Linked DNA regions of Homo sapiens. The protein of the gene in region 4 interacts with the protein of the main gene of each other region in a pairwise test. Each region holds a gene or a part of one and is shown on either strand. Other genes may lie near its edges.

Evidence for each region.
Region 1: the proteins of SPRED2 (region 4) and TSNAX interact in binary tests that used the Homo sapiens proteins (3 or more experiments, as listed by UniProt).
Region 2: the proteins of SPRED2 (region 4) and KCNIP1 interact in binary tests that used the Homo sapiens proteins (3 or more experiments, as listed by UniProt).
Region 3: the proteins of SPRED2 (region 4) and VSNL1 interact in binary tests that used the Homo sapiens proteins (3 or more experiments, as listed by UniProt).

What each region holds. Positions count from the first base shown.
Region 1 is NC_000001.11:231,538,473-231,546,237, forward strand, and holds part of TSNAX (translin-associated protein X), read left to right. Parts: intron 1-4,008; coding exon 4,009-4,139; intron 4,140-7,765.
Region 2 is NC_000005.10:170,506,710-170,514,474, reverse strand, and holds part of KCNIP1 (A-type potassium channel modulatory protein KCNIP1), read right to left. Parts: intron 1-7,765. UniProt on the Homo sapiens protein: Regulatory subunit of Kv4/D (Shal)-type voltage-gated rapidly inactivating A-type potassium channels. Regulates channel density, inactivation kinetics and rate of recovery from inactivation in a calcium-dependent and isoform-specific manner.
Region 3 is NC_000002.12:17,585,130-17,592,894, forward strand, and holds part of VSNL1 (visinin-like protein 1), read left to right. Parts: intron 1-6,940; 5' UTR 6,941-6,945; coding exon 6,946-7,107; intron 7,108-7,765.
Region 4 is NC_000002.12:65,338,182-65,345,946, reverse strand, and holds part of SPRED2 (sprouty-related, EVH1 domain-containing protein 2), read left to right. Parts: intron 1-1,050; coding exon 1,051-1,228; intron 1,229-7,765. UniProt on the Homo sapiens protein: Negatively regulates Ras signaling pathways and downstream activation of MAP kinases. Recruits and translocates NF1 to the cell membrane, thereby enabling NF1-dependent hydrolysis of active GTP-bound Ras to inactive GDP-bound Ras.

The DNA.
Region 1 (7,765 bases), on a different chromosome or scaffold from region 4:
TTTGCTTCATAATTCATTTGACCTGATTCCTTTGCCTGTTTCACGAGAGGTAGAATAGTATCTACCCTACAACTCCCCAGCTTACGTGTTTTAGTCCAGCTTCTGAAGACGGATTGTTGTTACAAATTCCAGATGTCTCCAGAAGGGTAGCTGTGATTGGTTTTATACTATATGTCACAGAAAGAATGTAGGGAAGATCACATATAATTTATTAGCTTTTCGTTATTGAAGATATTATTGCCCGGGCATGGTGGCTCACACCTGTATGGGCAACATGGCAAAACCCCATCTCTACAAAAAATACAAAAAACTAGCTGGAGATGGTGGTATGCAAGTGTAGTCCCAGCTGCTCAGGAGACTGAGGCAGGAGGATTGATTGAGCCCAGGTGGTCAAGGCTGCAGTGAGCCATGATTGTGCCACTGTACCCCAGCCTGGGCGACAGAATGAGACCCTGTCTCAAAAAAAAAAAAAAAAAAGATACTGAAGTATTCCGTTCAGTAACATGAAACTTTTAAGATAATTCTCACATTTTAATTTTTACTTCATTAAATGGAATCTAATTTGCCATACATAGATTTATTGAAATATGGCACTGTTAACATTTTCTTTTTCTTACCTGACTGTGTAAAATTAGTTTTTGCTTGTTTTCTCATATCATTCTTAGATAGCTTGTACATAATAAGGCTTGTATTATCGAAAGAAGCAATACTGTTCTTATTAATTATGGACACTTTTTTTTAGTACTTATTACAATTCTAAAACAATTGCCATCAGTATTCAGCAGTAATATAAATAACAAAAGCAATAATATAAAGAAAAACATACAGATTGAGTATCCTAAATGCTTGGGACTGGAAGTGTTTTGGATTTCGGATTTTGGAATACTTGCAGATAATGTATGGGTTGAGCATCCCTTATCTGGAAATCTGAAATCTGAAGTGCTCTTGTGAGCATTTCCTTAGAGTGTCTTGTTGCTAAGAAAGTTTTGGATTTTGGAGCATTTTGGATTTCGGATTTTCAGATTAGGGATGCTCAACCTGTAATAGGAATATGACAGGAGACCTTAATATTTTAGAAAAATCTGCGTTACTGTGTGAAGTCATCTTTTAAATATTTTTCCACCAAAAAATAAATGCTCATTATAGTAAACTTAGAAAATGGTAGTCTTTAGAAAAATTACGAATGGCAGAAAGGTAAAGCTACTTAATGAGACAAATCAGTCTGTAGTACCCAAAGATAGCCTCTATCAACTAGCAGATTTCTTATTTTGTGCACTGTTTTTTATCATAGTTGTGATCATACTGTTCATACAGTTTTGACTAGTAAACTGAGAAAATAATAGACTTCAGAAAAATAAGAAACTTAAGAAAAAAATAGAAACTTTAGAAATATTAGAAACTTCAGGAAAGTAAAGATACTTCATGAAAGAGGCTGGATGTGGAGGCTCATGCCTGTAATCCCAGCACTTTGGGAGGCCAAGGCAGGCAGATCACTTGAGGTCAGGAGTTTGAGACCAGCCTGGCCAACATGGCGAAACCCTGTCTCTACTGAAAATATAAAAATTAGCCGGGCTTGGTGGCATCCCAGCTACTCGGGAGGCTGAGGCAGGAGAATTGCTTGAACTCAGGAAGCGGAGGTTGCTTGAACTCAGAATTGTGCCACTGCAATCCAGCCTGGGTGACAGAATAGGACTCTGTCTCAAAAAAAAAAAAAAAAAAAAAAAAACTTTATGAAAGAAATGAGCCAGTCACAGTACAGCTGAAAAACTGTTGTGAGAGGACCTCATGTATTTTAACTACAAAATTATTTTAATAGACATAGATAACTCTTCTTCAGTGAGCTTCAGTAGTTTGTGTCTTTCAAGGAATTTGCCATTTCCTCTAAGTTTTGAAATTTATTGGTGCTAATTTTCATTTTGATTTCACCTTTGACCCAAGAATAATTTAAGTATGTTATTTTGTGTCCAAATATTTTGGGAGTTTTCCAGACGACTTTCTGATACTGATTTCTAATTTAATTTCATGTGGTCAGAGAACATACTTTCTATAATTTGAATCCTTTTAAATTTATGGAGCCTTAATTTTGGCCCAGGATATGGTCTATCTGGTAAATGTTGTGTGTGCACTTGAAGAGTGTGTATTCTGTTATTGTTAGGTGTAATTAAGTCAGATTGGCTGATAGTGGTGTTCGCGTCACTTATTTCCTTATGATTTTCTGTACACTCGCTCTATCAGTTATTAAGAGAGAAAGAGGGTGACCTCTCTTGACGATAATTGTAGATTTGACTTTCTCCTTGAAGTCCTATCAGTTTTTTCTTCAAGTATCTTGAAGCTCTTTTATTTGGTACATTAATATTTAGGATTGTTATGCATTTAATGAATTGACCCTTTATCATTATGATGGTATCCCTGGATATAGGCTTTGCCCAAAGTTTGATGTTAATATAGCTACTCCTGTTTCGTTTGATTGTTATTAGAACGTATATCTTTTCATCCTTTTATTTTTAATCTATTTGTGTTTATATTTAACATGGATTTCTTGTCTCTCTTGCTTTTTAAAAATCCATTCTGAAAATCTCTGCTTGTTAGTGCAGGTGTTTAGACCGTTTACATTTAATGCAGTTATTGCTATGGTTATAATTAAATCTACCATCTATTCTTCTCTCCTTCCTGCCTTATTTTGGATAATTTTTTATGATCCCATTTTATCTTATTTGTAGGCTTATTAGCTATGCCTTTTTTGTTTTGTTTTTGTAGTGATTGTTTTATGGTTCATAATATATATCTTATTGTCAACTATTCTCACTTTGTACAATACTGTGTTTACTAAAATTTGTGCATACAAGAATCTTTTCACTTTGCATGATTTTTTGGTAACAGTTACTTTGCCAGTGAAGGTCACAGTTTTGATGTGCCCAAGTTTCAGTTAACACAGTACCATGCAAAGTAAGGACTACTTATCATTTCGCGTATGGTATAAAAATCTTATACTTCCTTTTCCATTTCCCCTCTACTAGCTTGGCCTTTTGTGCTACTGTTGTGATTCATGTTATTTCTACTTTTGTTGTTTCCACAATATGTTATGATTTTTACTTTAAACAGTATGATTTAAAAATAAGAAAAATATTTATCCACATTTACCAATTTTTGTAAATGTTCATTCCTTTGTGTATAGATTCAGATTTTTATCTGGTATCATTTTCCTTTTGCCTAAAGAACTTCTTTTAATATTTTTTGTAGTGTCAATCTGCTGATGATAAATCAATTCTTTCCGGCTCTGTGAACTAAGGGGATTGTTCTGCCTGCTCACTTTGGGCAATTCTTTTTCCAGCCTTAGGTAGTTTCCTCACATGCCTGCACTGATCAGTACTCAACTGAAGACTTGAGGAGGTTGCTTCTATAAATCTCTGAAGCTCTCTGTTTATACAGCTTTCTCCTCATTGTTACTCTGCTCTGCAAATTTTAGCTGTCTCGATCCCCCAAAACTCCCAACTCCTTTTCTACTCAGGCTGACTCCCAGGCTCCACCTAAGTTTCCTGTCTCTGTACTGTCACTTGGAAGCTTTCCAGGCAATAAGATGGGGCAGTCAGAGGGTATATGTTGTTCTCCTCCCTTTCCCCAGGGATCACTGCTCCATGCTGCCTGTAGTCCAGTGTCTGTAACCATTGTTTTCTGTATTTATTTTTTCTTTTTAGTTGTTTAAGGAGGGAGGATAAATCCAGTCCACGTTACTCTGCCCTTACTGAAAGCAGACATTTATCCATATATCATATTTTTATGAACAAAATTTTTCTTATAGTAAACATACAATTTTTGTATACTTTTTTCACTTAACAGTGTGTTAATAACATTTTCATGTTCTCCATACTATGAATAGTTTTGAGTAGTTTTGAGTTAGAAGTATATGAATGCATACAATATTTAGCCCTATGTTGATAATTAGGTTATTTTAGTTTTTCACTGTTAAAGCATCTGATGTTCTAAAAGTTCCCAATATCTTGATCATAGTGCTCCTGATATGGAAGATATATTGACTGAATCAGAAATTAAATTGGATGGTGTCAGACAAAAGATATTCCAGGTAGCCCAAGAGCTATCAGGGGAAGATATGCATCAGTTCCATCGAGCCATTACTACAGGTAAGTCTAGGTTTGTTTCAGGGTAATATATATTTTAAATGGTGTGCTACATGATTAACATGTGAGTTGCATGAATTTTAAGTGACACCTGATGAAATAATAATACTGGCTTTTAAAGAACTGCAACTTTGTAGTAATATAGAAGTAATCCAAAGGCAAGTTGGCTTTATGTTTTTTTTAACAGTGTAGTGATGGTCATTGATTGATTTTAATAAAGTATTTGAGAACACAGATTTAATAGGATGAACTTTATTCTTGAGTATGTAGGATGTGTTCAGACAGGGCACATCTCAGTGGTGGCTCACGCCTGTAATCCCAGCACTTTGGAAGGCCGAGGCGGGTGGATCACCAGGTCAGGAGTTCGAGACCAGCCTGGCCAAGATGGTGAAACCCCGACTCAACTAAAAAATACAAAACTTAGCCAGGTGCGTTGGCGGGCGCCTGTAATCCCAGCTACTCCGGAGGCTGAGGCAGGAGAATCACTTGAACCCGGGAGGTGGAGGTTGCAGTGAGCCGAGATCGCACCACTGCACTCCAGCCTGGGCGTCAGCACAAGACTCCGTCTCAAAAAAAAAAAATTTTGAGGGTATACTGGATCTTGGTGGTTATCATTATTTTCAAATAAATTGAATAAATGTATAAAGTGCTTGGTTCTTTCCTCTTTCTTCTTTTTCTAATGTGGGTTCATTGATAGGACAGATACTAGATAATTCAGATACAGGTTCAGTATCCCTTATCCAAAATGCTTGGGAACAGAAGTGTTTCAGATTTTGAGTGTTGAAATATTCACAGTTTACTGCTTGAGCATCTCTAATCCAGGAACCTGAAATGCTCCAATGAGCATTTCTTTTAAGCATGACCTTTGAGCATCGTGTCAGCACTCAAAACGTTTTGGATTTTGGACCATTTCGGATTTAGGATTTTTGGATTAGGAATGCTCAATATCAGTACCCTAAGATTTGCAGGAAGACTGGGAAATGAGTTTATTTGGTATCTGCTTAATACGAATACCCAGTTTTAGCCTAAACGTTTATAATTTCAGCACTTGTTTTTTCAGAAATGTTGATATGTCTTCTAATATGGGTAAGAGAAAGTACCAGCATACATTAGTTAAAACTGAGGGTGCATTGTTGGAAACTGAAGTGTAAAACAGTTCTGTGAGGAGTCATTATAACATATTACCAAATGAAATACAGTCTGCCATCATAATTTATTAATATCAGGGGTTTATTTGATTTCTTAATAATAGCACACACAATAAAGATGACTTCATGAATTTAGTTTGTTGTAAAGTGGCACAACCTGTAAAGTGTGACAGATTTGGCTGGAGTGGGAGACAGGATCAGAAGTACTGGTGGGAAGAAGGGTGAAGTAAAAGGTAAATCAAGCTTGGCAGAAAACATGAGAATATCTTTATAATAGTAGCTGTGACCATACTACAGATAGATTCATAGCAGGAAAATATTTCAGACAGAGTAGTCCTGCTATACATAAGTTAGGTATGCGTGTGTAATCTTGAGGGCTACTGGGTGGTAGTGTTGGTGGTGGTGGGGGACCAAGTTAGGTCTCTTAGTTTCTGGAAAGTGCTTGAACTGAAGCAGCAGTACAGTCTAAATGTCTGTATTAAACAGAAATCCAATTCTACAGCTTTTCCTAAGTATCCTATTAACCTGAATGACTAAAGGCAAGAGTTTGAATAACTTCCATAATCTTTATCATTTTTTCTATCACATCATCATGTAGTATGCCTATCTTGCAAAAATTCATGACAGTTAATAAATGTAATAAAAGCTGATCACAGTAGTTCTCACTTTGGACTTCAGTCTGCTTAAAACTTGTATTTTAATAAAAATTCACATATTTTCCCCAAAATGTTGGTGCCTCATGTGTGAAAAAGTTTTTCATGTTTAGACTTCTCAATTCCTTATTAGTGCATGATTAGGCTCTACTAATTGTGACAACATCAAGTTCCCCAAATATCTGTGGGACATATGGGACATTTCAGATTTGCTGTATTTGGCCCAGTAGTTCTATTTTGTATGTCCTCATGCATCAGTGAAGTATAAAGATAAAGAGTTTAAATAAGGGCCAAGGCCATATAGATAATGATACCAAAAGCAACCTAGAAAGCTGTACATTGTCTTACAGAACAGAGAAATGGAGAGAAAAAGGTGAAAGGGAAATATTCAGTAGATTATTTCCTAATGCAGGAAGGAAGTGCTGTACTCTTGGAAAGATAGGACATTAAGAAAATGGGAATGATAGATCTTCAGATTTTCCTACTTCACTGTATCATTGAGGATTATTATAAGCACAGTGGTCTCTTTTAGGCCTTCGTTTATGATTTGTAAGTTTCCTTTGAAGATAACTTACTCATGGATTAAAATAATGAAGGATTTTCTGTATCTTTTCTGTAAAAAGTCTTTAAAATGAGATTCTTTGAATTGAAGCAATAAAGATGTTTTTTCTTAAAGTTAAGGAATAAAGCAGTCAAGTAAAGAGGTGTCTAGGACCGAAAATTTTGCTGACAGATATTTTATTTGATAAAATAAGGTTATTTATAATTGGATTAGCATTAACAATATGATGCTTATGAATAGCTTGCTGCTTGTAATTGTTAAATGCTTGTTTTGGTATTACTCCAAATAGTTGTTCTTTTGACTTGAAGATAAAACAATTCTGGCAATGAACTAAAGGAGTTCTGTGCTTTTCCTCATTAAGAATAGTGCTAATGGCACGCAGAGCATTTCCCTAAGGGATACTTGTGTGAGCTCAAACATTGAGTATCCTAATAATTGAACAACAACAAAACGTCAGGTCTGTTTTCTACACATTTCTTATCAGAGTAGATTACAGATTGTCCCAAGGGATGGTTAAACAAATGAACAAATAATTAGCTGCTTGAAATAAGTCTTTAAAAAAAAATTTGTGTCCTGTCATTTTTTTTTTCCCTCTTGTTGAAAAATTAACAGTTTGGGGGAAATGTCCTCCATTTCAAAGAAGAAATACATGTTTTTTTCTTAAGTTTAGTTTATATCACTGATAATGATAAGAATTGTCATTTTTTGAGACATTTCGGTACACAAAACTAAGTTTATATCCTAATTAATGTTTTAATTCTTTTATCCAAGAATGTGAATGATGGGTAAAGTGGATGTTTTGGGCCAGTTAAGATATGTTTTTAGCCACTATTCTTTATATTCACAATCTCATAGGTTTTTGCAATACCTCTAAATCATAGATATTTTTACCACTTCACAGGCGGGGAGATTGAGGCTCACAAGTTATGCTCAGGGTCATAAGCTAGCACGTGGTACCATTGGTTTCTTCCCACATGGATTTCATTTACCTCTTAACTTTACAACCTAACTCCTAGCAAAGGCTTTATTTTGCTTACCCCAAATACTGAGGTTTTCCTCATAAACCCAGCACACACTGTGGCCCTTTTTTCATAGCACTTCTCAACTTCTAATGTGTAATCTCTTTATATATTATATTTCTTCATTATCTCTCTTTCCCTTACTAGAATGTAGACTCTATAGATCTCTACAAAGATTTCATTCCTGTTTTTCACTTTATATATCCCAGACACCTAATAAGTCTCCCGAAATACAAATGTTGAAAAG
Region 2 (7,765 bases), on a different chromosome or scaffold from region 4:
CCTAATCAGCCCAGGGCTGGATGTATGCAAAGAGGGAAGAAGACAAGGGGAGCCCCTTGCTGCCCTGATTTCGATGGGTGGGGAAGCCTCCTGAAGACACCCCTGCTGAGTGCACAATTTGGACATCTGGGAGAGTCATACATGGGCGAATCCCAGAGATGGAGAGAAAGTGCAGCCTCAGCCACACGGATGCAAATGTGCCAGCTTCCCCCAGGCAGCTGGGAGCTTCATGGTCTCCACCAGAACATCCCTCACTCTGGGTCCAGGGTTGGCATGGGTGAGGAGCTGATGGGGCCAAGAGGAGGCTGTCATTTTCAGTTCCTGGGAGTTGGGAAACTAGCTGTAACTGCTCAGCCTCTTCCTGGGGCTCAGAGGCTTGCTTGTCCTGGATATGCCCTCCAGCTGCAGGCAGGAGCCCAGGTGGTGGAGTGCCTCGCAATCAGATCCACTTCAAGTCCTTGCTTACTAATCACTAGCCAATCAAGAACCTCCCTGCATCTACGTTTCCTACTCTGCAAAGTGAGAATAATAATGAAACCATTACAGGACTCCTACAAAAATAAAAAGATTACTTTTTTGGGGGATCCCCACCAACAGAGAGGTCCTACTAGACCCCCTGGAAAAGGCATTTGACTTTCATTCCCCAGGCCCTACCTGTGTCTGTTTAGACTCCTACTTTAGTCACATTTTCTGGCTTCAAATCCCACACAAAGGCTCTGTATGTAAACCAGGCTGCCATCCTGCTCTGGGATTCTGAACATTATCAGTGAAATCCATTATGCAGGCAAGTCTCTAGTTGCAGTCCACATGGCTCTGTCCTGCACCCTGTTCTGGCCCATGTTCTTAGAAGCAACTTAGATAAAGACCTAGAATGCCTCCTTATCATTTCTTCAGGTAGCAGAAAACTTGGAGGTACAGCTAAGATGATGGCTGGTGGAGTCAAGATTCAGGATCTCTGTTGGCTGGAATAACATTTAAAATGAGTAAACTAAAACTTAATGGGCGTACATCATCCTGCACTTCTTTGTTGTTAAAAAGAAAGAGAGAGAAAGAAAAACAGACAAGCTTGATTGCAGAAATGCAAATCTGGAAATCTGACTTCTTAACAATTTATATGAGATGACCAGGGCTGGGGTTCGGATGTCAGGCCTAACACTTGAGCTGTGTGATTGTGGGCAAACCACTCACCTTCTCTGGATTCTATTTTCTTATTTGTAAAATGAGGCTTAAATCAGAAGTCTTAGCAAAAGCCTCTTCTGGCTTGATATATAATTTTGTGTAATACAATACACATAGTTCCATAATCTGTACTTTAGGCCAGTATTCCTCAGACTCCAGTGGGCATATAAACCATCTGGTGATCTTGTTAAAATGCAGGTTCTGACTGGGTAGGTCTCACTGAGTTGAGGTTTTTTTTTTTTTTCCAAGATGGAGTCTCGCTCTGTCGCCCAGGCTGGAGTGCAGTGGCGCGATCTCGGCTCACTGCAAGCTCCACCTCCTGGGTTCACGCCATTCTCCTGCCTCAACCTCCCGAGTAGCTGGGACTACACGCGCCCGCCACCACGCCTGGCTAATTTTTTTGTATTTTTAGTAGAGACGGGGTTTCACCGTGTTAGCCGGGATGGTCTCTATCTCCTGACCTCATGATCCGCCAGCCTCGGCCTCCCAAAGTGCTGGGATTACAGGCGTGAGCCACCGCGCCTGGCCGGGACTCTGTATTTCTAACAAGCTCCCAACTGATGCTGAGGCTGTTGGTTGGAGGAGCACACTTTAAGTGGAGTAGACCCAGATAGTAACAATTTACCTTTAGCGCATTCTGAGTGCTGACCGCTGCATCTTACATGCATGACTGCATTTAATCCTCATAACAACCTGGGAGGGAATTATCAACAATACTTTCATTTTCTAGATTATGTAGAGATGAAAGTTCACAGAAGCGAGGTAACCTGCTCAATGTCACACAGCTAATGAGTTGCAGAGCCAGGATTTGAATTCTAGGTCTGCCTAACCAGGAGTGTATGCTCATAACAACCGTATAACATACGCAGGTGATTTGGGCCAACATGTGGCTAAGGAGAGAAAGGAGATGAGCAGTAAGGTACTTGCAAATGTACTAGCAAGTTCTTGTGTTTTTTTCTTAGCAGTGATAACCACTTGTAAACCGACTGATCTCCTTGCCCACCTGGACCGTGTGAAAACTCTGATCCTGGTCCCTGGTTCTGAACGTTTGCAATTCTAACATACTTGGAAGATATTTAAACACTCTATCTTCACTGACAGGCAATGATGGCTATAACAAAGAGAGAAAATTTTAGTTCACATAAATGATTAGAGCAGAGGAGAGATGTTTAATCCTATTAATGAATTTGCTAATTGGCCTTCTGCCCCCAATCATTTCATATTCAGGCTTCCACAGTGTCAGATGAAATGGAAACAGATCTAGGGGGAGGCGGGGTTGGGATGGGGCTAAAAGCATTTTGCTCAGGGCCTGCACGTAGCTCAGTTGTTCCGTGTGGCTAATGAGGTGCTTCAGTCTATCCTTGAATGCCTTCTCCCCAACATCCATGCACCCGTTTTGACTGTTTTTCTACTCAGGTCCCTAAGGTTCCAGAGGCAAAGCCAGGAGGAGAGGAGGTTAGTATGGCAGTTAGAAGCTCAGGGTCTGGGATCAACCAGAACCAGGCTCTGCGATTCCCAAGCTCTATGACCCTTAGTAAGGCACTTCCCTTTTTAGAGCCTCAGGTTCCTCAACTGCAAAATGAGAACTGTAATAGCATCTTGTCCTCCAGGGTTGGGGTTAATAAAATAACACAGGAAAGAGCCGAGCAAGGTGCCTGGCACTGGGTGGAGGCCAGAGTCATTTGAGCTAGTATTATTATCCTTCCTGGCGGGTGACCTGCATTTTCATACCTCACTGTTGGGAATTGCTTTTACCATCTAAAGTTGACAGCTTCCCTTAGGAATCACCAGAGAAACTGCTTAGAATGCCAGTGACCATGGATATGGTGGCTCGGGATCTCAGAGGGCTGGAATCAGAGGCCACAGCTCAAAGGGATGGGGAGATTACCAAGGGTAACACCGTCATCATCCAAGTGGAGCAAGGCAGAAGGAAGGGGCCTGTCCTGAGATGGGACAAAAGGCAGCAGCAAAGCCAGCACTGCCAACTCACCTGGTGTGCAGCACCATGTTCAATTCCTTCTTGGCCCTCACGTGGCCCTATAGGGAGACACTGTCATTGTCCCCATTTTTTAATTTTTATTTTTTTTGAGACGGAGTCTCGCTCTGTCATCCAGGCTGGAGTGCAATGGTGCAGTCTTGGCTCACTGCAACCTCCGTCTCCTCGGTTCAAGCGATTCTCCTGCCTCAGCCTCCTGAGTGACTGGGATTACAGGAGCATGCCACCATGCCCGGCTAATTTTTGTATTTTTAGTAGAGATGGGGTTTCACCATATTGGCCAGGCTGGTCTTGAACTCCTGACCTCGTGATCTGTCCACCTTGACCTTCCAAACTGCTGGGATTACAGATGTGAGCCACCATACCTGGCCCACTGTCCCCATTTTATAGAAGAGGAAACTGAGGCCTGGAAAGGCTCAGCTATGAACCAATGAAAGGGAGTTCAATCCCAAGACTCTTATTTTAACGCGGTGCTCATAGCCATAATGCAATCCTACTTCTAGCTTCCTGATTTGAGTGGAATGTGGTTCCTACTTCCCCCCACCGCACCAATGAGGCTTTTAGTCTGGCCTTGAATAACAAGATTTAATCCAAAGTACTACTCCCATGGCTGGGGTACGGGAAGCTAGCAATATCCCAACTGACTACCACTACTTCCAGAAGGTGACCTATTTAAAATACTACCCGGAGGAAGGGGAAGCATTTAAAGAGATGTTTCTCTGAAGGCCCTAGGACTCTTAGGCTCTCTCTCTCTTTTCTAAAAACTGTTCCTTCCCTGCCTGATGAATGGGAACATCAGCTCCACGGCCATTATGCAGAATTTTGCAGAGCTTCTCCCCAGGAGCAGACCTGGATTCCTCATCTGCACCGCCGCATTCTCACACCGCTCAGAGCCATCAAGAACGCACACTCTGGCCCATCCATCCTTACCTCCATGCCGCCAGCATCCATCAAGCCTGGATGCAGTGTCAGGCCTGACAGAGGCCCTGGGATAAGACTCAGTGCCTGAAAGCTAGTCAGAGAGATAAATGTGTAAACCCATAATGACAACCTCATAGTGTGTTCAGAATTGTAGTTAAGGGAAGCAGCAGCAGCTATGGGGAAAGAGAGAAGGCAGAGATGTGCTCTGCCTACAGAAGCCAGGAAAGGCTTCCCAGAGCGGTGGCATTGAATGAGGCCTTGAAAGATAAGTAGGAGTTGGCCAGGTGAATGAGGAGATGGAGGAAGAGGGAGGATGAGGAAGCCAGAGTGGATCTTAGGCAGGGAAGCAATGCTGAAGGACAATTGTGGGACTGGCTAAGTGAACAAATAAATGAGTGGATAAATATACAGATTCTGATCTCACCCAGGCAAGGGTGAACGAACCTGAAATATAAGGGAAGACAAGGGGAATCACTGTGAGTCAGTCCCTGCTTTTGTTTCAGCAAAAGAGTGAAAACTTAGAGACATCTCCTCACCTTCTCCAAAGACACTATACACCTACCAGTATCCAAAAAATTACCAGGACTCTTCTTGACTGAATTTATATTTTTCAACTTTGGGGAGATGACTATCAATGCTCTTTGTGAAAAGATAGGCTGTTAATTATAGCTGTTCTGGCACTTCATCATTCATTCATTTATGGACATATTCATTCATTCATGTGGTCATTTATTCGATCATTCTTTCTGTCATTCAGTTGATAATTCATTTGTTGCTTCATTCATTCACTCCTTTACTGCTTCCCCCATTCATTCAATCATTCATCTTTTCACTTATTTGTTAAAGCATATGCTCACTTATTCACTTACAGATTTACAAAGCATTCATGGAGCAAGGCCCTTCCAGGCAGACAAAGAGGTCTAAGCCTTGGCCCTTTTCCAGAGACCAAGTCAAAACAATCCCACTGATTTTAGGCAGTAAGTCCTTCTCCTCTGTCTTCCATTCTTTTCCATCTCTCTCTTTCTGTTTATCTTGAGCTCCATTGAGCTTCTTCTGGGATTGAGGGACCAGAACTGTGCCTGGTGCTGGGTGTGGGTTCCTCATACCTTTGTGATTATGAGGGAGTGGGAGTAGAATCACTGTTCTCAGCACTTTCCTGCTAAATGGTAAACAGATTCGGTACATTTCATGGACAAAGTCAATTCAAAGCCAGCAGACCGAACAACAGAATTCATTCCTGGCAGAGGGCTGGTAACTGAAATTCCGGTGGGAAGCTAACTTTTCCTGCAGGGTCTGCAATTCTAGCAAATAATGGAGAGTGGCCAACCATTCCATTATTTATAGTTTACTCTAGGAAAATTTTTATTAAGTACCTACTATGTGCACAGAACCAAGCAGAGAGTTGTGAAGGATGAGTTAGACGAGCTCCTACCCCCAAGAACCCTGACCTCTGGTGGTGGGGAAAGGGGGTTAACACCTCCGTTGATTGTCTAATTCCAAGCGCGATTGTGAGTCATAAGAAAATGTACACCTTAAAAGAATATGGGAATTCAGATGGGAGAAATCACTTCTCTCTGGGGCTTGGAGAAGGCTTCCTGAATATGGAAATTGCTGAGTGAGGTCTTGGAATGTCGGTGGAATTTTAACTATTAGACAAGGCAGCAAGGGGTGGGGTGGGAGAGCATTATAGAATTAAAGGGACAGGCAAAGATGCAAAGATGGGTAAAGACCAAAGCACAAACATTTCTATACATCAGGATTCTCCTTTTGCAGATAAAGAAACTAGCATTTACAAGGTGAAATGACTTGCCAAAGGCCTGCCCCTTGGGCTCAGGACTATGTGACAACACGGCTACTGCTTCTCTATGCCTGTCTGTCTCTTGTCACTCTCCCATATCTTTAGGTTGAAAATGCTGCCCTGACCAATAAACCCTAAACCCAGTCTCATCAGGTACACTCTGCTTCCATAAGTTCCCTGAGGTGCTCATTGATCTAGGAGCAAATATGGGACTATCGGGAACATTCCCATGTTTGGCCCTATATTAACCAGTACCCTATTAACTCACCGTGTGGCCTTAGAAAAAGCATCTGATAGCCATGGGGTTGAGTCATAGCTCACCTATGCTATGACTATTCTGGAGATCCGAAGCTCAGCCCTTTCAGAAAGTTCTGCATGCTTGCACTCGGTCATGGAGGATTTCTAACCCAGCCACCCCTGTAGTGTGGGATTATTTGCTTCTAGGCAATTCTCTGTTGAGATGGCCTTGGTCTAGTGATGTTGTCCCTAAATTCTCCTGCCCCGCTGACAAGCCCAGCAGCTGCACCTGTATGGTCCTCCTCTGGTTCTCCTCAATGCCCTAGCCTGTCTCACTTACCCATTCAAGGCCAGGAGCAGTGTCCTTGGTGTGTCATGCACATGCAAAACTGCTAGAGTCAGAAATTCTATCTGGGACTGGGATGCAGAGGCTGAATCCCAAAAGCAGGGCTCTCCTACTTTTAATTAAAGACACACAAAGATCCCAAACAGAGAGAAGGACAGGAAATGAACCTGAATATTTTTATTCAGTGGCATGGCTCTTAAATTACTTTAGATTTCTGTTGCCTTTAGAGAGCGCTCCCTGAACACCCAGGTTGGGCTGGATATCTTCTTGCAGCACTAATCATGCAGAGTTTTTGCCCTATTTAAAAACTATGTATGTTTCTAAATTGTATTATCAAGGCATTCAGGATTTTAATTGAGCAGGCTTTGATGTTTTCAGGACAAGCCACAGAGTAGAGGTCAGTGAGGGTTGAAGCAAGGGACGAGCATCTGTGTGCTGGGGTTTTTGGTCCTAGTTATCTGGATAGGGCTGGATAAGGTTTCCAGAAATGAGCTGTTAAGGCTCTCAGATGTACTGCCTACTTCGAAAATGGCCTTACTCTGGACATTTGGAAGCCCCAAACAATAGAGCCATAAATTGAATAGTACCTCAAATTTGCTGACCACTTATGTAGCAGAGACTGTGCTAAATGCTTGACTTGCATGATCCTTGAAATCCACACAACACAACAGCTATTTTAAGATGGTAACTACTACTATCTCTGTTTTATAGTTGAGGAAAACAAGGCTTAGTCATACAGCTAGTAAGTGGCAGAGCCTGAATTTGAACCCAGCAGGGAGACTGATTCCTGAGTTGAAAAATCCCAACTGCTCTCTTCCGGTTGCTTCTAATTAGATCTGAGCCTCACGTCTCTGAGATCATAGCAGCAGCTCTGGTGAGAGCATCAACCATAAAAATATTAGAATTTGAGAACCAAATGGAACCTGAGGAAATGCCTAATGTAAGTTTCTCCCTTTACAAAGAAGAAACCGAGGCCCCAGTGGGGAAAAGTGACCTGGCCAGGATAGGCTCCCTGACCACTAGCCTCCTCAGCCAGGGCTTCCTCCAGGTTTCCAAGCTGCCTCCCATAGAAGGGTCTTCTGCTGATTAGCATTCCACTATGCAAGGCAGTGAGATGACTGTGCTTCGGGGGCAAATACCTGGGGGAACATATGCAGCTGGACCCCTGGACAACTCACGCCAGTGGGCTTTGTGCAGGAAGGGCTGAGTGCCCAGTGCTTCGATAGCTTGTCTTGGGAGTCCACCCATTGGCCCCGAACCTGCTATGAGCCTCAAACGAACATTGTTG
Region 3 (7,765 bases), about 48 Mb from region 4:
GGTGAAACCTCAACTATAATTCCAGGAGATTCAGGTTTTGAGGTAATGTCATCAGAGGATGCTGTAAGAAGGGATTTCTGTTCTTTCCAGAAGCTGCTTTTGTCCCCAGACACATCATGAAATGCCAGCTTGTGGTCCACACCCTCCCTGCCCGCTGGGAAATGCTGCTGGGGGCTTGTGAGTACTTGGCTTCTGGAGGACAAAGAAGAGGGGAACAGAAAGAGGCATAGTGTCAGATATTTGCCTTCATTATAAAAAAAAAAAAAACATACAATATGCTGGGCAATTTTAAGGCATGGTTTTCAAGGCTGTTTTTAACAGTCTCTGGAAACCAGCAATCCGGTGTCAGTTGTTTATAGGATCCAAGGGGGTGGTGCTGGGGGTTGTTTCAACATCCTTGCACAGAGAGAAACATGGGTAGTGGCTTACAAGCTTTGAGTGTTAGACACAGGGACAGCATGCTGTGGGGGTGGGGAGTGGGGGACACCCATCCAGGTGGGGGGATGGGCTTCTCATCCCAGCTCTGCCATCAGCTGCCCATGTGATCTGGGAAAATTCATCACCTTCCTGAGCCTCAAACTCTCCAACCTAAAACCAAAGGGCTTAAAGCAGAGGAGCCTACAGGCAAATCTTTTCAAGCTTTGGTCTTCCCTTGTGTGATCTTGGAATTCTTTTTTTCTTTTTTTTTTTTTTGAGGCAGAGTTTCACTCTTGTCACCCAGGCTGGAGTACAATGGTGCGATCTTGGCTCACTGCAACCTTCTCCACCTCCCTGGTTCAAGCAATTCTCCTGTCTCAGCCTCCCGAGTAGCTGGGATTACAGGTGCCCACCACCACACCTGGCTAATTTTTATATTTTCAGTAGAGACAGGGTTTCACCATGTTGGCCAGGCTGGTCTCAAACTCCTGACCTCAGGTGATCTGCCCACCTCAGCCTCCCAAAGCGCTGGGATTACAGGCATAAGCCACTGCACCCGGCCAATTTTGGAATTCTTAATGCTAGTCCCCAGTACAAGGATCTTGAAAGCACATCAGGAATGCCAGATGGGGTTAGTGAGGAATCAGGGAGACCTTGGGTTATGTCTGTGCTGGTTTGGGGTGTGCTTCTTAGATCATGTACTTCGATTTTTATTTATGCTTTCCAGCAGCATTTCCCAAGTTGACTCATGATCATATTCCCCTGAGTTGCTTTTTAAATGTACAGATTTCCCTGCAAGGGATCAACCCACTAAGCTGTATTTTTAAGGAAGAACCAAGGGTGATTCTTGTATTCAGACAAGTTTAGGAAAGACTGCTTAAGAGGTTTCACCTGGGGACCGGTGACAGGTGAAGGTGCCTGATTTGGTCAGTATTTGTCTGTTTGTCTATCCTCTGTGTTATGTAGCTCTCTACTATGAGTATTCATTTCATCATGCTTCATATTCCAAGACTTGTAAATGTCTCCTGCATCCAGGTCTGAGCCCTTTAAGATTGGTACCATGCTTTCTGTTTATATCCCACCTTACCTAGCACAGAGCTTTTCTCCTGGAAGATTCTTACAAACATCTGCCAAACTTAGTTGTGCAGAGAGTTTTCTGCCTGATTCCGTCAAGTTAATTATGCCATGGGTCATTATTAACCACAATATCAAATACAAGGAAAAGAGAGGAGTAGTAACAGTTGGCAGAGAAGTATCATGGAGAAAACAGGATTGGAATGGAGTCTTGCAGCAGGAGTAAGGTTTAGATAGATGGAGGAAAAAAGCACAAGGGGCATTCCAGGCAGAAGTCTAAGCATGAGAAGGCCAGTCTCTACAAAGGCAATTGTTTCAGGATATGAGTGAAGAGCCTAGGGCTCAAAGAAAAGATTTATTCAAGACTGACCTAAGTAATCTGTCACTGACCAGCCCATTGCAGCCTCTTTCCATACTTGCATTACATGCAGGTCTCCAACCTGAGCCCCTAAAGCCCTTTCTTCCTTTGCTCTCAGCCCTATTTCCAAGGTTGTTTTCCCACTGCTGTGTTTATCCTGCTATGTATTTGCACATGTGGTGGGACTGCTCCATTTCAGCCACTCAGTTTTTATTTAAATGAATCTTGCTAAGATTCAGCTAGGCTGATTGCTAGATTACCTGGGAGGAGCTGGATATGCAGTTCTGTGTGCCTCTTCATACTCAGCAGACCCTGGTATGTTCTGGAAGACTGGATTTAGATACAGTAGGTAAGAGACAGGCTGAGGGCAACACACACACACACACACACACACACACACACACACACACACACACATATATTTTGTTTCAATCCTCTTTAATACCCAAAGGGCTTATGGAAAAAAGATGCTCATGGGTGCTTCTTGGCTCCCTTGTAGGCCCTTTCCACATCCACGAAGTTCTCCTGGTCCTCTTCTAGGAGCATTCTTAAATCCTCTGCCTCTTCTGCTCTGGAACCTGCTATCAAGACAGGGTAGGAAATGGATGAGAGATGAGCGAAACTCAAGACAGGAAGACCAGTTGGGAGGTAGTTGCAGTATCTTTGAGATGATCCTGCAGGTGAGAGAAGATGATGGCCTCTATTAGGAAAGCAGTGGGGTGCGAGAGAACTGCATGCATTCTTTACTAAGCCCTTACTAGCTGGTTTAGCTAGGGTAAATTACTTAATCTCTCTGGCCTTCAAAGTTCTCATCAGTAAAAAGGAAACAATCATAATCTCTTTTTTACAGTTTTTAAAAATACTGTTTTTAATGCTGTAAAAAAGGGGTCAATAGTTTATATGGGTCAATGTTGTTGCACAAAAGCCTTTTGTAAATTAGTGTACAAAAGTGCCATCTTCTCTGGACATCATTTGCCATTAAGTGAAACTGTGCTTTCCTCCACAAGGGCTCTATCATTTGAAGTTCTCTTGTCCATCAAAGCCCTTCCACCAGTCCTGTTTTGTGCCTAGCACTGAACTTCTCTGTATGACAACACAAGCAGTGAGAAATTCTTTTGGTTTGGGGATGGGCTGGCTTTAATATTATAGCTTGAAATCCCAGCTTAAAAGTAATACACTCCGGTTTCTGTCCCCTCCCTTCTTCGGTAATAAACACTTAAATGCTGATGGGTTCTCAGGTCAAGAATCCACAGAGCCTGCATGTGTTGAGACAAGCCAATAGGAGGTCTGACTCATATTTTCATATTTACAAAACCTATGTGGGAAATCAGTGAATGGTAGAGTTGGAAAGGCCTTAAAGATCATCTGGTCCAACTCCTCATTTTTTAAATGGGGAAATGGAGTAACTAGGAAGGAAAGGATCTTGGCCAAGATCACAGAGTAAGTTAGAGACAGAGCCAGCCTGCTTCCCCCTCATATGGTGTAGCGGAATCTCTTTATTGGGAATGTGATAAAATGTACTGTTTGTACTCTTTCTGTTATGCTGGTCCCATAATGAAAGATACTGCTTGGCCCATATCACTGCAGCCCAGAGCAAAAGGACTATAGGTGGAGAGTATTAATCTAACTACACTTTCATTCATTTATCACACATTACTAAACACCACCTTTATGTCAGTTACTGAAGATACTGAGATAAAAGACATGGGTCCCACCTGCAAGGTATTCAATTTTAATGATGAAGACAATCTCCAGGAGGGCTGAATATTTTCCATGCAGTTAAATGAAATATTTCTCCCATCTGCCAACTGCATTTTATATTTATACTTGTGAATGCATTGACTCTCCTTATATATAGATTATGAGACATTTTCTCAGAAAAAAAATACCAAATATCTCAGACCCCTTATTTATTCATGTCCTCAAGAAATATTATTTGAGCACCTAATAGGAGTTACCAAGAGGCAAAAATAAATAAATAATAGTCCTCTCTCTCAAGAAACCATAATAACAATCCAGTAGAGAAATACATAATGATCATGGAAGCTTTTACAAGGAAAGGGAGATACCTAAGAGAATGGGTGCCTAAGTTTGCCATGGAGAGTCCACGAAGGTTTCATGGAGGAGGTGGTGTGTAAATTGAGACTATTTAAAGAAGGGGAAGAAGTCTGTTGAGCAGAAAATGGGGGGAAGTCATTCTAGGAGAAGAGAACAGCATATGCAGAGCCATGGAAGTGTGGAAGCATGCAATCCTGGAATCTATAATAGTTTATAATCACTGACACATGAGAAAAGACAGATTGGCAGAAAACGAGGATATAAGTAGGCAGGACCTGAGCCACGCTAAGGAGATGAGGTTGCATCATGGAGACTAAGGAGAAGTACAGAGGCTTTTAGAGAGTAGATCAATGAGGTTTGTATTCTGGAAATTCACTCAGGCAGCTGTGCAGAAGGAGAGTGGTTGGAGTCAGGTAGCCCAGTGGGGAGGCCAATCTTTAATCAAGGCAAGATCTGATGAGGCCTATGAGGGCAGTGGCAATGCCATTCTGAGCCAGGCCAGAACCTGACTTTCTGTGTGATTCAACCATTGCCCAACACACCTGAGTGATGGTGCAGACCCATACAAGAAGCATGAAGTTATGCACTTGAGTCTCCAAACTGTGATTCACAGTCCTGACAATATTTCCTGTGTGTGTAAGAGACCACCCTCTCCAAAGTCAACTGGAACAGTTTAAGACATCACAAGTGACCCATGGAGAAGCCAAGCTTCCTTGCCTAACAAAGAAGCTGATACGTTGTTGAACTTCTAAAGGCACTTGGGGGAGGTGGTTTTTAATACAAAGTCACTTCTGAGCTTGTGGTTTGGTAAATTTAAGTCTTTTCCAAACAAGGCAGCCAGGCTGGCAAAGTGATCCTTTTTCATCCCCTCTAGGCACTGATTCAGTTCTCTGAAGCCTCCCTGCTTTCGCTCTTCCTGTTCCTTCTCCTGAAATGTCTTTCATCCACCAGTCTATGATTGGACATTGGAGTCCTATAGATCCAGGTTCAAATTCTAGCTCCGCCATGCATTAATTGTATGCTCTTATACAAGTTACCATAAGCGTTCTGAGCCCCAGGGAGCTCCCCTAATCCTGATTGCTCGGTGATTGCTGAGCAGGAGATGAAATTTGTGAGGTGTTCCATTAAGTGCCTTCTCCATCGCCAGCACTCAATATTAAATAGCTATTTTTCTTAGGTGAGATTCTAGTTTAAGAATGAAGGTTTGTAATTCTCTACCAAAAAACCAAAGTAAAGTACTGAAAGGTTTCACAATAATACATCTTTTGATTTTCAGGATAACCATGAATTAGAGTTTTCTTACTCACATTAATTAAACCTGACACCTGAGTACCCACTTGATTTCCACACCCAGCTGTGGAATTCCACAGTAACTTATAATTAATAGACAGTTGCTTATAAGAGATTTGGAACTTGAATTCAGAGCAAAAATAAGTAGAGAAGCCCCATGACAAAGGGAAGAGTTGCTGATACTGGGCCCTTTTCTCATGCTGACGAGTTTGGAGGGTAAATGGCCATCTTAATGGTATCATCTGACTGCATTTTGTGCTGCCGAGATTGTGCTGAGTGGAAATTTCCCTGGAAGTAGCAAGAGTGGCTTAGTTTCATTACAGTGAAAGAATTGGCCAATGTTGGGGCAGGTTACTGACAATGGGTGTGGAATCTGTTTTAGGAGAAGTTAAAAAATCATGACAATAAAGTATGTGATGAGATTACCCCTTCCAGGCTATTGCAAGTGTAGACATGCCTGCAGCTTGAAAGAGAGTTTGTCTCAAGCACAGTGAAGGACTAGGTTCACTTGGTTAATTCTTCAACCCTAACTCAGTATCTTTTAACTGAATTTGAAAGATCATCTGGCACTTTCCAGATTCTGGAAATTTTCCAATTTTCAAGTTTAACTTGACTTTTTAAATCAATCTGGGGTTAATTTATGTGTTAATTCTTTTATTATTATTATTAGCAATAGTCTTATTATTATTTATTATAAAGCAACTTTAAAGGGAAAATTTTAAAATTATCTTTAATTTTCCTGCAGTTATTTTAATTTTGGAATTTTTTTTGGCCTTTGTTTACCTACTTACTTGTTAATCAGCCATCACAATGAATCTGAAAGAGCTTCATTATTATGTCTGCTTTATTAATGAATAAGTTGAAGATAATGCAGTTAATTAACGTTGCCCTAAGTAACACATGTAGTAATTGGCCAAATCAGGAAGAAAAATCAGGAATTATCTCAAGCCTGCTCTGTCTCCCTACTCCCTGCTGTGATGTTGGCCACACAACCTGGTGCTTAATGGATATAGGTAACATTATCTTATGCACTATTACTTTAACTCAAAATCAGAAATAATAGCAGTCTGGAATAATATCAACAAAAACTCCCCAACCAATCCCTAGAAGAAAACCATTAAGATTTTGTCAACTCTGAAGACAATGTTGTACGAACTTTCTAATTATGAGAGGAGAAATAGAGAATTAGTGTGACTAATAGAAATAGCTGTTTTTATTGGGGAAAAAAGCTCCAACTTGAACCAGACCAACTGAGACTCCTTAATATTGCTGATTGGATATTCCAAGCCACTTACTGATCATTTAGTTATAAAGTCTTCTCATTGTTCTTGTCAGTAATCCCACTGAGTATCCCATTAAACTAAATGTAGAGTTAAACACCTGGGAGGCAAGTGTTAATAAAGTGTAATTTGTAGAAGGAAAAGAAAAACAACTTCTATATGCTTACTATGAATAGCATAAAAAGGGATGGTTGCCTTCCATTTGGGAGTCAACACCATATGAAAGATGACACAATGAGGTAAAGAGTGAATGCTACAGCCCTTGGAACTGTCAGAAGAGTCTATTTCACTCATATATTTTTCTAGAATACCAAGTAGAAGGAGGCAGACTTGGGAAGATATGCATCAGCCACACTGGAGGGAGTTCCGACCATGGGACTGCTCAGAACTCTAGCTTGGCTCCTAACCAAGTTTGAAATGATCACAGCCACAGCGCTAATTGAATTAATTTGCTTTTCTTCAGGCAGGATGGGGAAGCAGAATAGCAAACTGGCCCCTGAAGTGATGGAGGACCTGGTGAAGAGCACAGAGTTTAATGAGCATGAACTCAAGCAGTGGTACAAAGGATTTCTCAAGGACTGTCCAAGTGGGAGGCTAAATCTCGAGGAATTTCAGCAGCTCTATGTGAAGGTAAGTTGTTTTTCAACCTTGTTTTTATTCCTTAGGCCAGAAACTATGGCCTTCATGAAATTGTACCCTCACATGGAATTATAACTCTAAGTAGCTAGTTTGTTTCAACTCTGGCTGTTTTCCATCCAGAAAGAAAAATTAACATTTAAAAATGCAAATGTATATATGTTGTTCCCAAAATAAGCAATTTCTGAACAAAAAGAGTAATTGTTAAATCAAAGCACTGAATAGAGCTCAAGGAATGACAGCATCTGGTGAAAGAACCATAAAAAGCTCAGAGAAGAGTGTTTGCTGATAATTATTGACAGTTTGCTAATTACAGCATTATTTGGCCTGTTAAAGGTATATGTACTTCTCCCAGTTAAAGAAAAAGTACACAAGAGGGCTTTTTCTCTCTCTCTCTCTTTTTTTTTTTTTTTTTTTTTTTTTTTTTTTTTTTTTTTACCAGAAAAGATACTCCTGTATCCAGATAAGAACCCAGATTCCCACAACAGAACATTTAGAAAAGGGGTGGGGGAGTGTAGCGTATCTCTGGTCAGCAATGTCTACAACATAGACAATAACTCAACACTGTACACTACTCAGAAGCTAAACTTTCCCTGAACATTACACAGAACAGTCCCATAAAAGGTACAATTTCTACTGCAGTGGTATTGTT
Region 4 (7,765 bases):
CAGCAAGTGAGAATGTAATGGCCTTGCCAAAAATCCAAATAAATTTCCCCCAAAAGTGATGAAGAATGAAAAGAAGCTAGAATTGGTCTCTGGGGGAGAAAAAGGATTTTTGGCAAATGTGCAGAAGAACTTATTGTGAAATTGAGGTTTTAGACTGGAAGAAATAAAATCATAAACAGAAGTCTACAAATATGTAAAGGGTTATTGGAATTGAAATATTTTCCTACCTAGATACGTGATTTCATGGTGAATTTATGATTTGCAAGTAGATTATCCTATTTTATGCTAAATGAGATTCTTGGCTTTATAAAATGTTAAAACTTGGTCATTCATTTTCAACTCATTTTAAAGGGTTGAAACCATAATACCGTCTTAATAGGTTTGTAGTCTGGGCGTGGTGGCTCCCGCCTGTAATCCCAGTGCTTTGGGATGCCAACATGGGTAAATCACCTGATGTCAGGAGTTCCAGACCAGCGTGCCAACATGGTGAAACCCCATCTCTACTAAAAATACAAAAAACTAGCCAGGCATGGTGGCAGGTGCCTATAATCCCAGCTACTTGGGAGGCTGAATCAGAATCGCTTGAACCCGGGAGGCGGAGGTTGCAGTGAGCCGACATCGCGCCATTACACTCCAGCCTGGGCAACAAGAGCGAAACTCCGTCTCAAAAAAAAAAAAAAAAAAAAACAACAACTAAAAACCAAAATAGGTGTGTGTCTTTCCAACCTAAAGATACTGAATTACAGAAATCAATTCATTTATCAGTACTTACACCTAGAAACTGGAGAATATTGTGCCTGTATACATCTTTCGATCACAAGTAATTTTTAATTACTTATCTTTTTTAAAATGTACTTTTATATTGAGTTTAAGTGTTTTGTTTTTTCCCTAAAAGTTGAGATGGACCACTTTTTAAGGTTGCCGCCAAGCATAGATTTCTTTCGATAAAACAAAAAAAGTGCTGGCTGGTGGTCATCTTGCATTTTGAAACGTGTTCTGCAACTACCAGACCATTGTCATGCCCTGTGCTTCTTCTTCTTGTCGTTTTAGTGACAGCTATATTGTGCGTGTCAAGGCTGTGGTTATGACCAGAGATGACTCCAGCGGGGGATGGTTCCCACAGGAAGGAGGCGGGATCAGTCGCGTCGGGGTCTGTAAGGTCATGCACCCCGAAGGCAATGGACGAAGCGGCTTTCTCATCCATGGTGAACGACAGAAAGACAAACTGGTAATGGCAGACATACAACTCGTGGGTTAAATTAGTAACAACTGCTTTCTTTACGTTAAATCATAGTCCTCTTTCCTTAACGTATTTTTTTCTTTCTTTCTCTGACTTCAAACTCTTGCAAAAGCTTCAAAAGTTAGAACCCCGGAGCTGGTGCCAAATTGTAAAACGTGACTGTCCTTTCCAGCAAAGTCTCTTTTGACCACACGCTTTATCCGAGATGCTTAGAAGTATATTTGGCTGTTTTATTTGCATCTTTGATTAAGATGTCTATCATTGTAAAAAGGTATTCAAAACAAAAGTGTACTCTTTTATTATTATGAATCACATTGTACTGAGCTGTGAAGTCAGTGTTTTAAAAATGTAGAGTTTATTCATGGAGCATGCCATTGAGGTTTGGATGGTGGCAGGTAAAACAGAAAGGCAAGATGTCATCTGACATTAGGCTACTTATAAATAAATGTTTATCTAGCTTTTATTTCATGCCCTAATGAATAAAACATGCTTGGAAAAAGAAAGTAACAAGAAGTAGTGGTATCATACTTTGTGGGTTTTTTTGGGTTTTTTTTTTTTTTTTTTTTTTTTGAGACGGAGTCTCGCTCTGTCACCTAGGCTGGAGTGCAGTGGCATGATATTGGCTCCCTGCAACCTCCACCTCCCAGGTTCAAGCAATTCTCCTGCTGAGTAGCTGGGACTACAGGTGCGCGCCACTACACCCAGCTAGTTTTTGTATCTTTAGTAGAGACAGAGTTTCACCATATTGGCTAGGTTGGTCTCGAACTCCTGACCTCAGGTGATCCACCCACCTCGGCCTCCCAAAATGCTGGGATTACAGGCATGAGCCACCGTGCCTGGCCCATACTTCTATAAATTATTATCCATGCTTATAGATAAATACTTTGGAAAGTAATCATCACCTCCCAAGGGTGGGGGATTGACACTTCATAATATATGGTCTTATGGAGGAACTCAAATGTTCAGTTCTATGTTATGAAGGAATCTATGATAGGAAGGAAAATTGAATGTCCAAAATCTGTTTTAAATTCATGGCCCTAAACATGGAAGAACACTACTTCTATCTGTATTTGATCATGGAGTGTATACTCAGAAGCCAACAGATGATTCAGAATGTGCAGGATTGTGCAGGATCCCACAGAGAAAATGCAAAGACACCACAAGAATATGTCAGTGTTACATCTGAGACCCTTTACAGCAGCATCTGTTGGGTTTTATGTGTTAAGTGTACAAATTTAACCTTCTTTTGCAAGCACTTCTTATAGTTTAAAAAAATTTAGAAAATAGATAAGACAGAACAATTTGTAAATGTTACATGTGGGTTAACAGAAATGTTATTTTCACATTTGATTTCATTTCTGAAAATTTAAAGGGAGAAGACAGCTAATTTTAAGAAGTATTTGTTCAGGAAATACCCTATATAATAGTCAAATAATGAAAACATTCTTGTTTATAATATTTTTGCAATAAAAAGCAATGTAACTATATTACCAATAAAAAGTAAAATGACTACCATTTATCTAGCATTTACCATGTACTAAGTATAATCCAGCCCTTCGGTTAGATCTCTCATTGTATCCTTACAGCAGCCTGTATAATTGTAATTGAAGAAATTATGATTCAGAAAGATTCCTTGTTCTTAGTGGCCTGTTTTGGGGGCCTGGAACCAGTATTTGATTCTCTTGTCACTCTGACCCCAAAACTGAACAACCACCCTTAGCCCTTTGATGTAATTTTCCCACTTTGTACTTTTTTTTAAAAAGGCAGGATCTCACTTTGTTGCCCAGGCTGGCCTCCAACTCCTGGGCTTCAAATGGTCCTCCCACCTCATCCTCCAGAGTAGCTGGGACTACAGACACATGCCACTGTGCCCAGCCATATTTTTAAACAGTTGTGTATCTTATTTATTTTGCCTTAAACATTCTCTTTCAAGACTATCATGAAACAACATTGCCCTAACATTCTCATATGAAATTTTCCATGTTGCTGATATCAGTTTGATGTTTCATTATTTGACCACCTCCTTAGTGTCAAATATTAAGGTTCTTCCCCTCACCTCAGTGTTAGGAATACACCTATGTGAATTTTCCACGTTTATTATAGTTTTGGAATAATTTAGGAGGTCATATTTTTATGACTTTTGATACATGTGCAAGGAGCTGCTACCAGTATTAGAATTTCCTTTAACACATTGAGGGATATAAAATATACATACATATATAATATACGTATACAAAATATTCATACATATATAATATATATACAAAATATACATACATATAATATACGTATACAAAATATACATACATATATACATATACAAAATATACATACATATAATATACGTATACAAAATATACATACATAATATACGTATACAAAATATACATACATAATATACGTATACAAAATATACATACATAATATACGTATACAAAATATACATACATAATATACGTATACAAAATATACATACATAATATACGTATACAAAATATACATACATAATATACGTATATAAAATATACATACATAATATATGTATATAAAATATACATATAAAATCTTATTGCTTGCTAATTAATAAAATGTTTTTCTGTTTGTTAAACAGTTATAACTGTGAATTAATTATCTGTTGATGTCCTTTGTATATTTACTTATCAGGGCCTTATTTTTCTCCTTCATGTGTATGCCCTCTTGCATAATAAAGATATGAATCTCCATCTGTCATATTTGCTGCAAGTATATTTTTATAATCTGTTGCTTGCCCTTTTAGTTCTTATTTTTATATATATAGAAATTTTTTTCCACTTCTTTGGTCTTTTTGTTTTTAGGGTTATTCTGTGTTTTACCAGATTATCTTGTCTGAAGGCTTATGTTTTTAGAGCTACTTTTTCCTGGTATTTCTATGGTTTGTCATAGAATACTTCAACCTAAAGTGGCCCTTTAGCTTATCTAATCTAGTCACTGGTAAGACATTACTAGTGCATAGTAAACTTTTACCATTTGTTCCAGGTCCTTTAAGTAAATAACCTCAGTTAAATTCCTGCAACATTTTGAAGGAGGAAGATACTACTATTTCCACATTGTAGTGGGGAAACTCAATGCTCTAAGAAGTGAGCCACGTCCTTGGCATGGGGTGGGCAGTGTCACCAGCAGAGCCTGCGTTTGAGCTCATTTCTTTGCAAAATCAAAGCCTGTCCCTTCACACTAACTTGGCATAATATTAGGGCAGTCCAGTCCTCTGTCCGCCCCCGCTGAGTCGTGGACCAACTGCTGTTGTTTGTTGCTAGTGTACACAGATTGCACTATCCTAAAAGTGTGCCTCATCCCCTCCCCCATCATGTTTCTCCATTTCCCCACCCCTTTTCCTGTCCCCTTTACATTCCTTGACTCCACACTTGTGGGCTTTTATATTCACTAGTACCTAAGTCACACACCCATATGTCCTGCTGTACTTCTCTGTCTCTCCATCCCTCACCTTGCCTGTTTCACACTCCAGGAAATTCTGGATTTCTGTACTGAGTGGTACTTAACCCCTCCCCTCACACCCATACCCAGCACACTCATGCACATGCACACACACACACACACACACACACGCCCGTACCCAGTCTCCCTTCCTCTCTCTCTCTCACTGCCCTCCCCCCCACCACCCCGCCCCTTTCTCTCTCCTTAGAGATATGATAACTCTTCCTTTGGCCTCTCAAGCTTCTCTAATGCAATGCTAGTGCCCACTGGAGACCATGCGCCCACATGGGAGCTCTGCAAATGTGGTGAGTTATTGAGGAACCCCCCTCTAAAAGGTGGAATGGCAAAGAAAAGATGAAGATTATTTTTAGGATATATTGGATGGATTGTATCAGAGTTCCCAGTATTCCAACTAGGGCATGAAGTGCTCTTTCAGATAGAAACAGTGTTGTCAGTTTTTACAATGTAGTGCACATCTAGAATTCAGCACATTGTGGGAGTTTGTTTCGTTACATATTGAGGGCTGTTAACTACCATTGTTTCTGTGGGAAAAGTCTCTGTTCCAGACAACCATTCACGAGTAGTCAGGTAATTTTTTGGTAAGCTGGGGACAGTCAAGCCTGAGAAATTATATTTAAATTAAAATTTTCTGAGTTGAATCTCATTTTTAGATGGATTAGAGGAGTTTACTCCTGAAACAAATCTTATGAGAAACCTCTTTATGGAGACTAATCACAAAATCTAAGAGTTTGATCATTCCAGTCATTGCCCATGTGTAGGTCAGCGAGCATTCTCACATAACATTTGGTGGGAATTTGAGCTGGCAAAGCTCTTTGAAAAGCAATTTGGCAGGATTTTAATTTTAAATGTGCATATCTTTTTACCTAGCAGTTCACATCTAGAACACTATCCTTTAGAAAAAGACTTAAACACACAGAGATTTATGGACAGTAACAGTTCTTAAACTTTTTTGGTCTCAGGATCCCTTTACACTCCAAAATTTTATTCAGGACCTCAGAGAGCTTTTGGTTTGGTGAGTTACAGCTATTTATAACTTGCCATATTAGAAATTAAAATGGAAAAAATTTAAAACTTTTAATTAAACAGTATTGTTAATATAAATGACATTTTATGGCAAATAACTGTATAACTTTTCCAGAACAAAAGTAATTATGAGAAGAGTGGCATGGCTTTATGTTTTTGAAGATCTCATTAATATCTGGCTTACCAGAAAATAGCTGGATTCTGGTATCTGCTCCTGCTTTTAATCTGTAATATATTATTTTGGTTGAAGTATATAAAGAAAATACAGCTACTCACAGAGAAGGGGAGTTAGTAAGGGGAGAAATATTTTAATAGCCTTTTCAGACAATTGTAGATATTCTTCTTTGATACTACACTAAAACTCAACCATGTGGAATCTGAAATCTATCAATGGACCTTTCATACTCTGTTACATTACCACCCACTGGTTTATCTTTCACTTTCTTTTTTTTTTTTTTAGGATTTTTTTTTAATTTTATTTTATTTTTTATTGATCATTCTTGGGTGTTTCTCACAGAGGGGGATTTGGCAGGGTCATAGGACACTAGTGGAGGGAAGGTCAGCAGACAAACAAGTGAACAAAGGTCTCTGGTTTTCCTAGGCAGAGTGTTTGTGTCCCTGGGTACTTGAGATTAGGGAGTGGTGATGACTCTTAACGAGCATGCTGCCTTCAAGCATCTGTTTAACAAAGCACATCTTGCACCGCCCTTAATCCATTTAACCCTGAGTGGACACAGCACATGTTTCAGAGAGCACAGGGTTGGGGGTAAGGTCATAGATCAACAGGATCCCAAGGCAGAAGAATTTTTCTTGGTACAAAACAAAATGAAAAGTCGCCCATGTCTACTTCTTTCTACACAGACACGGCAACCATCCGATTTCTCAATCCTTTCCCCACCCTGCCCCCCCTTCCATTCCAGAAAACCGCCATCGTCATCATGGCCCATTCTCAATGAGCTGTTGGGCACACCTCCCAGACGGGGTGGTGGCTGGGCAGAGGGGCTCCCCACCTCCCAGTAGGGGCGGCCGGGCAGAGGCGCCCCTCAGCTCCTGGACCGGGCGGCTGGCCGGGAGGGGGCGCTGACCCCCCGCCCAACCTCCCTCCCGGACGGAGCGGCTGGCCCGGCGGGGGGCTGAGCCCCCCACCTCCCTCCCGGACGGGGCGGCTGGCCGGCCAGAGGGGCTCCTCACTTCCCAGTAGGGGCCGCCGGGCAGAGGCGCCCCTCACCTCCCGGACGGGGCGGCGGGGCAGAGGCGCTCCCCACATCTCAGACGATGGGCTGCCGGGCAGAGACGCTCCTCACTTCCTAGATGGGATGGCGGCCGGGAGGAGGCGCTCCTCACTTCCCAGGTGGGATGGCGGCCGGGCAGAGACGCTCCTCACTTTCCAGACTGGGCAGCCAGGCAGAGGGGCTCCTCACATCCCAGACGATGGGCAGCCAGGCAGAGACGCTCCTCACTTCCCAGACGGGGTGGCGGCCGGGCAGAGGCTGCAATCTCCGCACTTTGGGGGGCCAAGGCAGGCGGCTGGGAGGTGGAGGCCGTAGCGAGCCGAGATCACGCCACTGCACTCCAGCCTGGGCACCATTGAGCACTGAGTGAATGAGACTCCGTCTGCAATCCCGGCACCTCGGGAGGCCGAGGCTGGCGGATCACTCGCGGCTAGGAGCTGGAGACCAGTCCGGCCAACACAGCGAAACCCCGTCCCCACCAAAAAAACACAAAAACCAGTCAGGCGTGGCGGCGCGCGCCTGCAATCGCAGGCACTCGGCAGGCTGAGGCAGGAGAATCAGGCAGGGAGGCTGCAGCGAGCCGAGATGGCAGCAGTACAGTCCAGCTTTGGCCCGGCATGAGAGGGAGACCGTGGAAAGGAGAGGGAGAGGGAGACGGGAGAGGGAGAGGGAGACGGGAGAGGGAGAGGGAGACGGGAGAGGGAGAGGGAGACGGGAGAGGGAGACGGGAGAGGGAGAGGGAGACGGGAGAGGGAGAGGGAGACGGGAGAGGGAGAGG